Linked DNA regions of Homo sapiens. The protein of the gene in region 2 interacts with the protein of the main gene of each other region in a pairwise test. Each region holds a gene or a part of one and is shown on either strand. Other genes may lie near its edges.

What was found. The genes of interacting proteins can lie anywhere in the genome.
Region 1: the proteins of UQCC2 (region 2) and RABGAP1L interact in a two-hybrid assay, tested with the Homo sapiens proteins (one large-scale study listed by BioGRID and IntAct).
Region 3: the proteins of UQCC2 (region 2) and SNAP25 interact in a two-hybrid assay, tested with the Homo sapiens proteins (one large-scale study listed by BioGRID and IntAct).

What each region holds. Positions count from the first base shown.
Region 1 is NC_000001.11:174,162,520-174,166,019, forward strand, and holds part of RABGAP1L (rab GTPase-activating protein 1-like), read left to right. Parts: intron 1-3,500. UniProt on the Homo sapiens protein: GTP-hydrolysis activating protein (GAP) for small GTPase RAB22A, converting active RAB22A-GTP to the inactive form RAB22A-GDP. Plays a role in endocytosis and intracellular protein transport.
Region 2 is NC_000006.12:33,705,201-33,708,700, forward strand, and holds part of UQCC2 (ubiquinol-cytochrome c reductase complex assembly factor 2), read right to left. Parts: intron 1-3,500.
Region 3 is NC_000020.11:10,302,330-10,305,829, reverse strand, and holds part of SNAP25 (synaptosomal-associated protein 25), read right to left. Parts: intron 1-3,500.

The DNA of each region.
Region 1 (3,500 bases), on a different chromosome or scaffold from region 2:
GCATTCCAACCTACCATTGTCTTCAAGTGGGGTATGGATCATTATGACTGGTTAGAGGGGGTTTGGAGAATGAAGTTGTTGCTGTAAGCCTATGGGATTCCCAGGCACAGAGCTTGCTTATGTCTTAATTTTAATGAGTTCTATATTTTTATAACTCTTGACTTATATAAATGGGTCAGCCGTTGAGTCTGAGGATGACCAGCAGCCCAAGGCTATTCCAGGTGCTGGTATTTCTTTTTTTTTTTTTTTCTCTTTCTGTTTTTTTTTTTTTTTTTTTTTTTTTTAATTATACTTTAAGTTTTAGGGTACATGTGCACATTGTGCAGGTTAGTTACATATGTATACATGTGCCATGCTGGGAATTGAACAATGAGATCACATGGACACAGGAAGGGGAATATCACACTCTGGGGACTGTGGTGGGGAGGGGGGAGGGGGGAGGGATAGCATTGGGAGATATACCTAATGCTAGATGATGAGTTAGTGGGTGCAGCGCACCAGGTGCTGGTATTTCAAAGATGGCTCAGGGGTTTCTTGTGGAGATGATCTGATGAGCATTTTGCCATTACAAACAGTGGAGGCGGAGAAAGTACGGACTTGAGCCTGAGTTATGGTAAAACATACTCATTTTTAAAGGAGAGTTTTAATGCTGATATTATAGAGAAAGACATTGTTTGACTCCTAGACTTTCAGAACGGGAAATAATTTTGACTTTATAGTCAGTATTTGAATTGGGTATAAGTATGTGAACATCAGTGGACCCTAATAAGGAAGAGTTAATGAATTAAGAAGAGCTTGCATCTCTGAACATCTTCTTTTTATACTTCGTTTACTTCCCATATTGCTCTTATTCAACAGATGGGATGGCATAATTGGGTATACGAAGTTTATGCGCATGCTAACTCTTTTTTGTTATCTTTTGGTGTTTTTTGGTGTACTTTTTGGGGATTTTCCTGGGAAAGTTCTAGGCATATATTCAGTTGATTTAGAGTTAGATTTGGGCTAAGATTATTAGTATACTTGAAATTCTGAGCCTTCTTATTTTCTAAATAGCTTTTAAAGTAGAAAACATTTGCCAGTGCTGTTGGGCTTAAAAAAAAAAAAAACCCAACAACAACACAATTCTTTATAAATACTCATGAAAAATCTGGTTACAGGCTGTGTTGTGATAGACATAGTACAGCCAAAAATATATTTAAGAAAATTCTCACCCAGTTTAGTAAGCTTAAATAAGAGGAAAATAAGACAGTTTTTTTTTTTAATAAAAGGCTGATTTTCCCAGAATATGAAGCCTAACAACTGTTTGCTGTGTTATTTTCCCTGTTGCCTGTTCTAAATTCAGCAAGAACTATGCATCCCTAGTCCATGGTAAAAGCTTAGTTCCAGTAGGTGATTCTTAGTAATGGAAGTCTCATTGAGGGATGCAAGGGAATTTGATTGGGAAACATCAGGCATGGAACATTTACTTTTTACTGCTCTAATTTTCTGTGTATCTGGGTATTCAGTGGGGTGGGAACATGAGCACAAATACTAGAATTATCTGGATTTTTTTTTTATACTATGGATTTCCTCCTCTTACCCCCTACCTGCCCCCCAACCCATTGCTAAGTGAGCCATTGATAGTAGGAGTGTGTTATATCCTTCAGGTATGTAGGGCTGAACAAATGCTAAAAACCTTGGCACTTGGCTGATATTCCATAAACCAAATTCCTGCTCTGTGTAATTTGCCTTCTGGTGATATCAGTTTGTTACTCCCATTTTTGAAGAAAAATATGAATTGTGGTGAAGAGACATCTGTAACCAAGAGTAAGATTTATCAAATTATGTAGTATACATGAAGGACACCAGGAGATTGTTTACCTGAACATTTATTAAACTCATTTGACTGTGACCCACAATAAAAAATACATTTTACTACTTGATTCCGCAAGCGCACACACACACAAAGTTGAAAGTTTGGTGAAATAATATTTATCTTTTCAGGGCCCTACTGAGTTAGCTATAATGGCTTGCAAGACCAGTTGTGCATATTTCTTCCTATCTAGCTCTTTGTCCAGTGACATCATGTTGGTAGCTCAAAATTGGTCATGGTGGGAATATTTACACCAGGAAATTCAGCAAATGGTATTCTTAGGGCTTCCCTCCTCATAGGTAGTTGTTAAACATTTATAGCACCCCACTGCTTATAACACACATTGATATATTCTGTTATTTCATTTCATTTTAAAAATGCTGGGTTTTGACTTCCAAATTAATTTTACACCCAGCTAATGGATTATAGCCTACATTTAACAACAAATACAACTAGTTTAGCCTACCCTCTTAACTTTGTAAGTGAAGGAACATACTAAGAGCCTCAAGGCCAAGGTCAGATAGTGAGTTATTAGCAAAGCCAGGGCTCTGGACTCAATCTGGAGTTGTTTCTGGTGGGCTTCTTTCCTAACCTCACTTAGTGTGTATAAGGGATTGTGTTAATCAGTTTGAATAAAGATGGACCTTGACCCTGAGGACTTTATGCTTAGGTGGGGGATTAAATATGGAAACAACAGTGATAATGAAAGGCAGAAAGTAATGGGTGGTAAAAAGATAAAGATAAGGAACTATAAGAGTTTAGAGAGGAGGGAGAGATTACTTTTATTTTTGTTTGTTTGTTTGTTTTTCGTTTTTGACCCAGGCTGGAGTACAGTGGTACAATCTCGGCTCACTGCAACCTCTGCCTCCCAGGTTCAAGTGATTCTCCTGCGTCAGCCTCCCTGAGTAGCTGGGATTACAGGCGCCAACTGCCACACCAGGCTAATTTTTGTATTTTTAGTACAGACGGGGTTTCGCCATGTTGGCCCGGCTGGTTTTGAACTTCTGACCTCAGGTGATCCATCCGCCTCAGCCTCCCAAAGTGCTGGGATTACAGGCGTGAGCCACCGTGCCCGGTCTACTTTTAGTTTTAAGGATAAAAGAAGAGGTGACATTTGAACTACTTTTTTTTTTTTTTTTAATTTGGAGACAGCATCTCACTCCCGTTACTCAAACTGAGTGCTGTGGTGCCATCACAGCTCACTGCATCCTTGATTTCCTGGCCTCTAACAGTTCTTCTGCCTCAGCCCCCAAGTGGCTGGGACTATATAGGCACACACCAACATGCTTGGCTAATTTTTCATTACTTGTAGAGACGGGGTCTCATTATGTTGCCCAGGCTGTTCTTGAACTTCTGGACTGAAACTGTCCTCCTGCCTCGGCCTCCCAAAGTGCTGGGATTACAGTTGTGAGCCACCACGCCCGGCCCCTGAACTATGCTTTGAAGAATGGGTAGGATTTGGACATGTGGAAATAGGACAACTAGTATGAGAGAAAGGCCTTTCTGGGCCAGGGGCCAGGGTGATCAAAGGCATACAAGCATAGACAGGGAAAAATGAGTAGTGAAAGAGCTAGGCAAGAAAGAGTCCGTTAGCACCAGATGGTTAAGAGCCTAGAATGCCAGTTTTCCTTTCTGCTTTTCAGTTTAT
Region 2 (3,500 bases):
TTTTGTATTTTTAGTAGAGATGGGGTTTCACCGTGTTAGCCAGGATGGTCTCAATCTCCTGACCTTGTGATCCGCCCACCTCGGCCTCCCAAAGTGCTGGGATTACAGGCTTGAGCCACCGCACCCGACCACTCTCACTTCTGAAACTTCCTGTGTGAAAGAGACAGTCTCCTAGAGAGTTCCCAGAATTCCTGGACTCAGCTGTAACCTGAGAAAGAAAACCAAACACCTGAGTCCTAAAACAGACTTGCCATCCAGTTTCCCGTCTGAGGTCAGAAGGTGTCTAACTGAGGCTGTAAAAGCAGCTCAGTGGAGGTGACAGGAGTTTGAGACATGCCCATTTCTAGCCAAGTTCTTACTGCTTGAGGAGTGATGAAGCCTTGGTCAATGCTGGGTTCCTAGCCACAGATAACTCAAGCTCAGCAATTAAAAAAGTCATGCTTACTACTTAAAAGGATGTCAGTGGAGACATCTGTCGAATTCCAGAAGCCTCACCACGTTCCTATAGCTTACACTTTATTCACAGACTCCAGCACTAACATTCCTGAGCTCTGAAATGCAGTTTTTCTGATGAAATGGACGGTGCATTTTTAGAAATATTCTTAATACATGCTTTAAATTACCTGATTTTGCATTCACACCTAATGAGATCACAGACGTTTTAGGACTAATAGCAGTGCTGGGTTTGAAAAGGCAGCAGTGGGGACATTATGAAAAATTCAGCACTGCTCCCCAAATGTGAATAAAATAGATGTTCATCTGACGAGTGTCCTTTATAGCTCTATTTTTGCTCCTTTTGCATTTCCCCTGTTCAGTCGTCAGTAAATTTCTCTTTACCATATTAAACTTTTATACATACAAATCTACATCAGTGCTGCAGGCACTGATTTCGATTTTGCAAATTGAATTTTGGGTGGTGACAGCAATTGGTACAGCGGCCCCTATTCTAGTCACACAAAGGGACGCATAAGCACTTTTGGGAAAGGGTGTTGCAAATTGCTTTGCTAATTAAGGTAGAGCTGGATTCGGTCCAGGAGGATCTATAAAAAAAGGTTTTCAAGACTTGGTAATGAACTTCTGAAATGAGTTCATTCTGTTATGGGAGCCTATTCCCTTCAATTGAGTTGAAAATGTATTTCTTGAGCACCTACTATAGAAAGAGTGCTCCACTAGGGGACGGTGAGGGGCCACAAAGACGACGACCCAGGCCAGCTGTGGAGAAGCTGGCAGGCACACTACAGAGACAAGATACACATGAATTAGAAACCAACCCTGCCCGGGGCAATGTGTAAGTGAGAGCCAGATCTGCGGAGCACGGGCCGCTGCACGAGACCCGAGGTGGGAGTTGGGCACCTGGCTGTGCTGATGGGGAGGTGTGGCAGGAAAGGGCTGAGTTTCACTGCAGCGACAGTGCAGAGAGTGAGGAGTGCCAACCTGGGCATGAGTGACACAGGGACCAGAAATGACTGGGAGGATGAGGCATGAAGAGGCACAGGACAAGAGTGTTTTAGGCAGACAGGGCTTTTAAGGGGAACCCAGGGAGGGCTCCAAGAGCCTGGGAAGCCACCAAATTCTTGACAAACTCTGTGTTTGGGTTTTTTGCGGTTGTAGGGGTGCAGTGATCCACAGCGCACTTAAGTCTCAAAGGATCAGAATTGCTTGTACCATGGCCAGTTTGGGAGACCATGAGAAGACACCCTTGCTGAGCCTGGGGCTCATGTTAGGGTGGTGCGAGGCAAGGTTGGAAACACAGGCTGGGACCAAGGATCAGAGGCACTGCAGGTCTCACAAAGTTGCCTGCCACCTGCCCAGGAGGCAATGGGCAGACCCCAAACATCTTTGAATAAAGTAGTGACCCACCAGAAGTGGCCAAGAATTTATCCCTTCAGGTGGAGCACTGCAGCTTTACATATGCAGAGATAAACGCCACCCCTTGGTGTGAATACTACCCTAGCTCACACTGGCGCCATTCAGAATTGGGAGAGAAAAAAAGATGGAGATGTTTGTATTCCCTCTTAGAGATGATTCTCCTTACAACTCCAGGTTTTCGATGGGCTCAATACATAATTAAAAATAGGATAATCTGTTCTTAGGACACTCTTCAAAAGCATAACTTCAGGGGGCCCACAAGTGGGGGTGAGCAACGTTGAGATGGCTTCACCGTGGCCAGCATATGCCAGGTGGCTTGGGAGCTAGCTCCCTGCCACACTGAGGAATGCCAAGGACCAGGCCTCAAATGGATGACTGAGAAAACAGAATCAAAAAAACCTTTGAATTCTCCTCTGAGAAGGTGGAAATACCATTTACCTTATTAGAAACCCAAGAAAAAGTTTAACTTCTTTCAAACTGGGCCAATATTATTATACTTAAACTTGCATACAATACAGTTAGAACTCCCTGGTGGGCGAAGAGCAGCAGCTCTTCTAGGACGCCCCTCGGAGTTGCACCTTGTGCTACATAAGTGGGTGCTGGTGTGCAGTCCGGGATCTTTTAGGAAGCACCTAATGAACTCATTAGAAAGATCTGCTCCTTTCTCTGTTGTTAGGTCAACAATTACATTTGTTGTGCCACCTTCCCCCACGTTGCAATTCTTTTATTAAGCTCTCAGCGCTGTAGGAAACACGTGTTCTTAGACAAACTGTATTCAAAATTGGCAAAGCCCATAAACACTGACTTTTTAAAACTACACAATAGGATATGGGGTGTAAGAGGAGTTACATGTGTTCCCGCTCCCACCACCACCTCCCCACTTGGTGGGTTTAGGGTGGACCACAAGACTCCCCAGAGGGCAATTTGAGGTGGAATAAATGGAGGCAGTGGTTTTTGTACTCTGGTTTTGTGTATGAATTATTGATTTGCCCTTTAGTTAACCCAGCTTTTCTCCGCCTGGTGTCCCACCCAGGACCATCTTTCTTCCCATCTGGACTGGTAGTGGCTGGGGCAAAGAATAGGTGGGTAAACACAGGGAGTTCCATTTGCTGCCCAAACTATCTATGGCCCAAAAAGGTTTGAACGGGCAACCAGGGGAAGGAAGTGGTTTGACGTTCATGGAATAAGAGGTTGTTCTAACAATAACTTGGAACAGCAGCTGAGGAAAGGCCAGGCACCCAGGAGACGATGCACACTAGGGCCAGAGGGGCTGGGTCTGTTTCTCACTTGGCTTGTCTCTTATGGCTACGGAACCCCCAGTGCGTTGTCTTGTTTTTCTGATGTTTCCTCATCTGTAAAATGGGAACAGTAATGGCTACCACTCAGCTGTACTAAGGATTAAATGAGATCACGCCGGCAAAGGTGCACTGTGCACCTTTCAGGGTGATCATTAGGACGAAGGAAGCCAAGAGGCTGAGAGGAGGACTGACTGCCTCTCTCCTCTACGGAAATGGAAAGACGGCATGAGCAGAGCTACTTTCCCCTCCAGTTCTGTCTTCTGGCAACCGGCTTAACCAAGGAGGAGCTCCATACTAGTCAGTCAACTGGATCTAAGCCCCACCTCCTGCTGC
Region 3 (3,500 bases), on a different chromosome or scaffold from region 2:
TTTATCTTTCTATCCTAGAAAGACACTCAATGACTTCTGTGGTAGGCATTCACATCTGTTGGACCAAGTTGAATTACACTTCTTATACTGTAGGATTGAAACCATGGCTAATTTATTAGCAGTGTCCCTTTGAACAAATTACATCTTGGGGGCTCAGCTTTCTCTTCTCCAACCTGGATGATAAAAAATATTGCTAATGAGCATGAGCATGTACAGTGGACCCTTGGACATCATGGGTTTGAATGGTGTGGATCCACTTTTGTGTGAATTTCTTTCTTCCTTTTTTTTGAGACAGGGTCTTGCTCTGATGCCCAGGCTGGGGAACAGCGGTGTGATCATAGCTCATTGCACCCTTGACTGCCTGGGCTCAACTGAGCCTCCCATCTCAGCCTCCTAAATAGCTAAGACCACAGGTGCATGCCACCATGCCTGGCTAATTTTTCTATTTTTTGTATAGATGAGATCTCACTATGTTGCCCAGGCTGGTCTCAAACTCCTGGGCTCAAGCAGTCCTCCCTCCTCAGCCTCCCAAAATGCTGAGATTACAGGCATGTGCCATTGTACCTGGCCAGGATTTTTTTTCAATAAATACACTGGAAAATGCTTTGGAGATTTGCAACAATTAAGACAAACTTGCAGATGAATGTGTTACTTAGAAATATTGAGAAAATTTAGAAAAAATTAGGCATGTCATGAATGGATAAAATATATGTAGATACTAGTCTAGTCTATTATTTACTATCATAAAATACATATAAATCTACTATGAAAAGTTAAAATTGATGAGACTTAAACAAATATAGACCATACATGGGCCTATTTGCAGTTGAGAGAAATGTAAAGGTGAAGTATTAAATCATAATTGTATAAAATTAACTGTAGTCCATACTGTACTACTCTAATAATTTCATAGCCACCTCCTATTATTGTGGTGAACTCAAGTGTTGTGAGCATCCGTTTAAAATGCTCTGTGATACTAATCATCCTCACCATCTCTCCAGTAAATTGCATAGTGCAGTAAAAAGTGATCTCTTGCAGTTTCACATTTAAAAAAAATCATGTTTAGTGCAATACTGTAAACCTTGAATAACATCATGCACCCATACAAAGTGCCACCAGTGATGCTAGCAGTGCTCCCAAAAAGCAAAAAAAAGTCACGACATTTCAAGAAAAAGTTGAATTGCTTAATGTGTACTGAAGATTTCAGACTGATGATTCATCTTGTAAACAAATGATATAAACTGATGGTATCAATAAATACAGCATAGTATTATAAATGTATTTTATCTTCCTTATGATTTTCTTAATAACATTTTCTTTTCTCCAGCTTACTTTATCATACGAATACAGTAAATAATACATAAAACATAGATGTTAATGGACTTTTTATGTCATTAAGGCTTCCAGTCAACAGTAGGCTACTAGTAGTTAAATTTTGGGGGAGTCAAAAAATTTTCAGCTGCATGGGGGTTGACACCCTAAATCTCCATGTTGTTCAAGGGTCAACTGTACTTTGTTCCACTCATTAAACTTTGACAACATCAAGATTAACAATATCAACTATAAAGTGTGTACTATTATTAGCTCACTTTTCCAAATGAGAAAAGCAGTCAGAAACGATCTGGGGAATTTGTCTGAAGTCTTAGTACTAATAAATGGAGAAACCAGAGTCTGAATGCTAGCAACCTGGAGTCAGAGTCCACACTATTCATCACTTACTATTCAATTTGCTGAGATCAAATGAGTTTATACACATAATGTGCTTGGAATAATGTTTTGCAAAACGAAGGGCTCATTAGTTTATCTTGCAATTATTGTTACCGTATGAGAACTTGGCTTGCTTCTGGGATGCTTAATAGTTTTTAAGTTGCATTTCTGAAGATTCATTTCTATGAGTTTAATAACTGTCTTTTCTTTAACAGATGCACATTTACTATGATTTTGTAACTGGCTGGCTTTAATCTCTTGGTTGATCTCTTTACTGCTTGGGTTATGTTTGCTGTATATGCAGCATGAAACCTAGGGCTGCTACCAGCATAAATCTTTAAATTCCAGAAAATGAATGATTCCCATCACCACTGAGAAAAATGCATCAGCAACCAGAGGTGAAGACAACGATTCTATGGAGGCTTTTCTTTTGTCCTTCCCTGACTGGTAATGCTGTCTATCCTTCTACAGCCTGGGAAGAAGAGGAGGAGGCTGCCAGGCAGTGTGGGGAAACCAAACTGTTTTTCTCTCAACCAGTATCACTCAATGATTACCAGCTTTGTACCTATTGTGGTGCTGTACTTCCCAATTTTTATTGAGCTGAGTCTTCTGTATTCAGTTCATATCGTGAATTCTCAGGACATTAGAATTATCCATGTTCAAATAGAAATTTGCAAAGTTAAAACAAACATATTTCCAGATTAATCATAACTTTGAATACCTGGCAATGGTTCTCTGTCATCTGTTTGGATAATTGACACTTGTCTTTTAAAATCAGTATTTACATAGTAAGATAGGGCATTGATTTTGATTGTTTTGAACTACAGACTCACATTTTTGACCTCAGGTTTCTCAATTGGAAAATGGATAATCTCACCAATTTTACTTGGTTCTTAAGCCCTCCCTTTCCAGCTACAAATGGTATCAGAAATAATGACACTTCAGTGCAAAGGAAAGTTACAGGATCAGAGCAATGTGAAATGTTCCTGTAGATTGAATTATTATGTTGCCAGACTAAATGCTCTGAAAAGCTCAAATGAGAAAAATAATTCATTTTAAAATGATGGCATTCCTGAGCGCAAACATTCTAGGATCTCCTGTACAAGAATGCACTGAGGGGCCTTCACCTGGGGATATTTGAAGTAGAGCATGAGGTTACTCTGTATATCCTTAAAGGATCTGGGAGGAGCTGAAACAGACTTATGTTCAATGAGCATCTGTGATTTCCACCTAACTTACTTCTGAAGCATATGAAAATTCCACCCCATGCAATATTTGACACAGAAAGTACTGCCCCTTTATTATATAAAAGAATTAGCTTCTTTTAAAAAAAAAAAAAAGTCTGGAATCTCCTTGTAGATGTCTTCCTGGTATTTGGAGAATGCCCCTATGATCACCCTACTTATATGCTGTAGGACTTTATTTATGATGGCTGTCCCATTCCAATTTTTATATTTCTATTTAGAAAATTCTAAATTTGCTGGAGTGCCCAACATATGTTACATGTTTGTCCTTGTGAGAAGGCCAGGATGACCACCAAAGAGCCAGTAAAAGTTTAGAAGGAGCTGTTCAGCCCATCTTCTGAACGCTCCGGGAATCTCTTCAACTTCAGACCATGCCAGGTGACTTTTAGAACCCAGTTCATACTTCCAGCCTGTTCTGATCCTAGGTTTGAACAGTTCTCTTACTATCCTTCAGGTGAGGCAATCAGGTCACAGAGCTGGTGAATGGCAAAACCCTGTTAGAACTCAAAGTCTTAGCTCTCAAATGCTGTGTTTTCTCACTGATAGAAG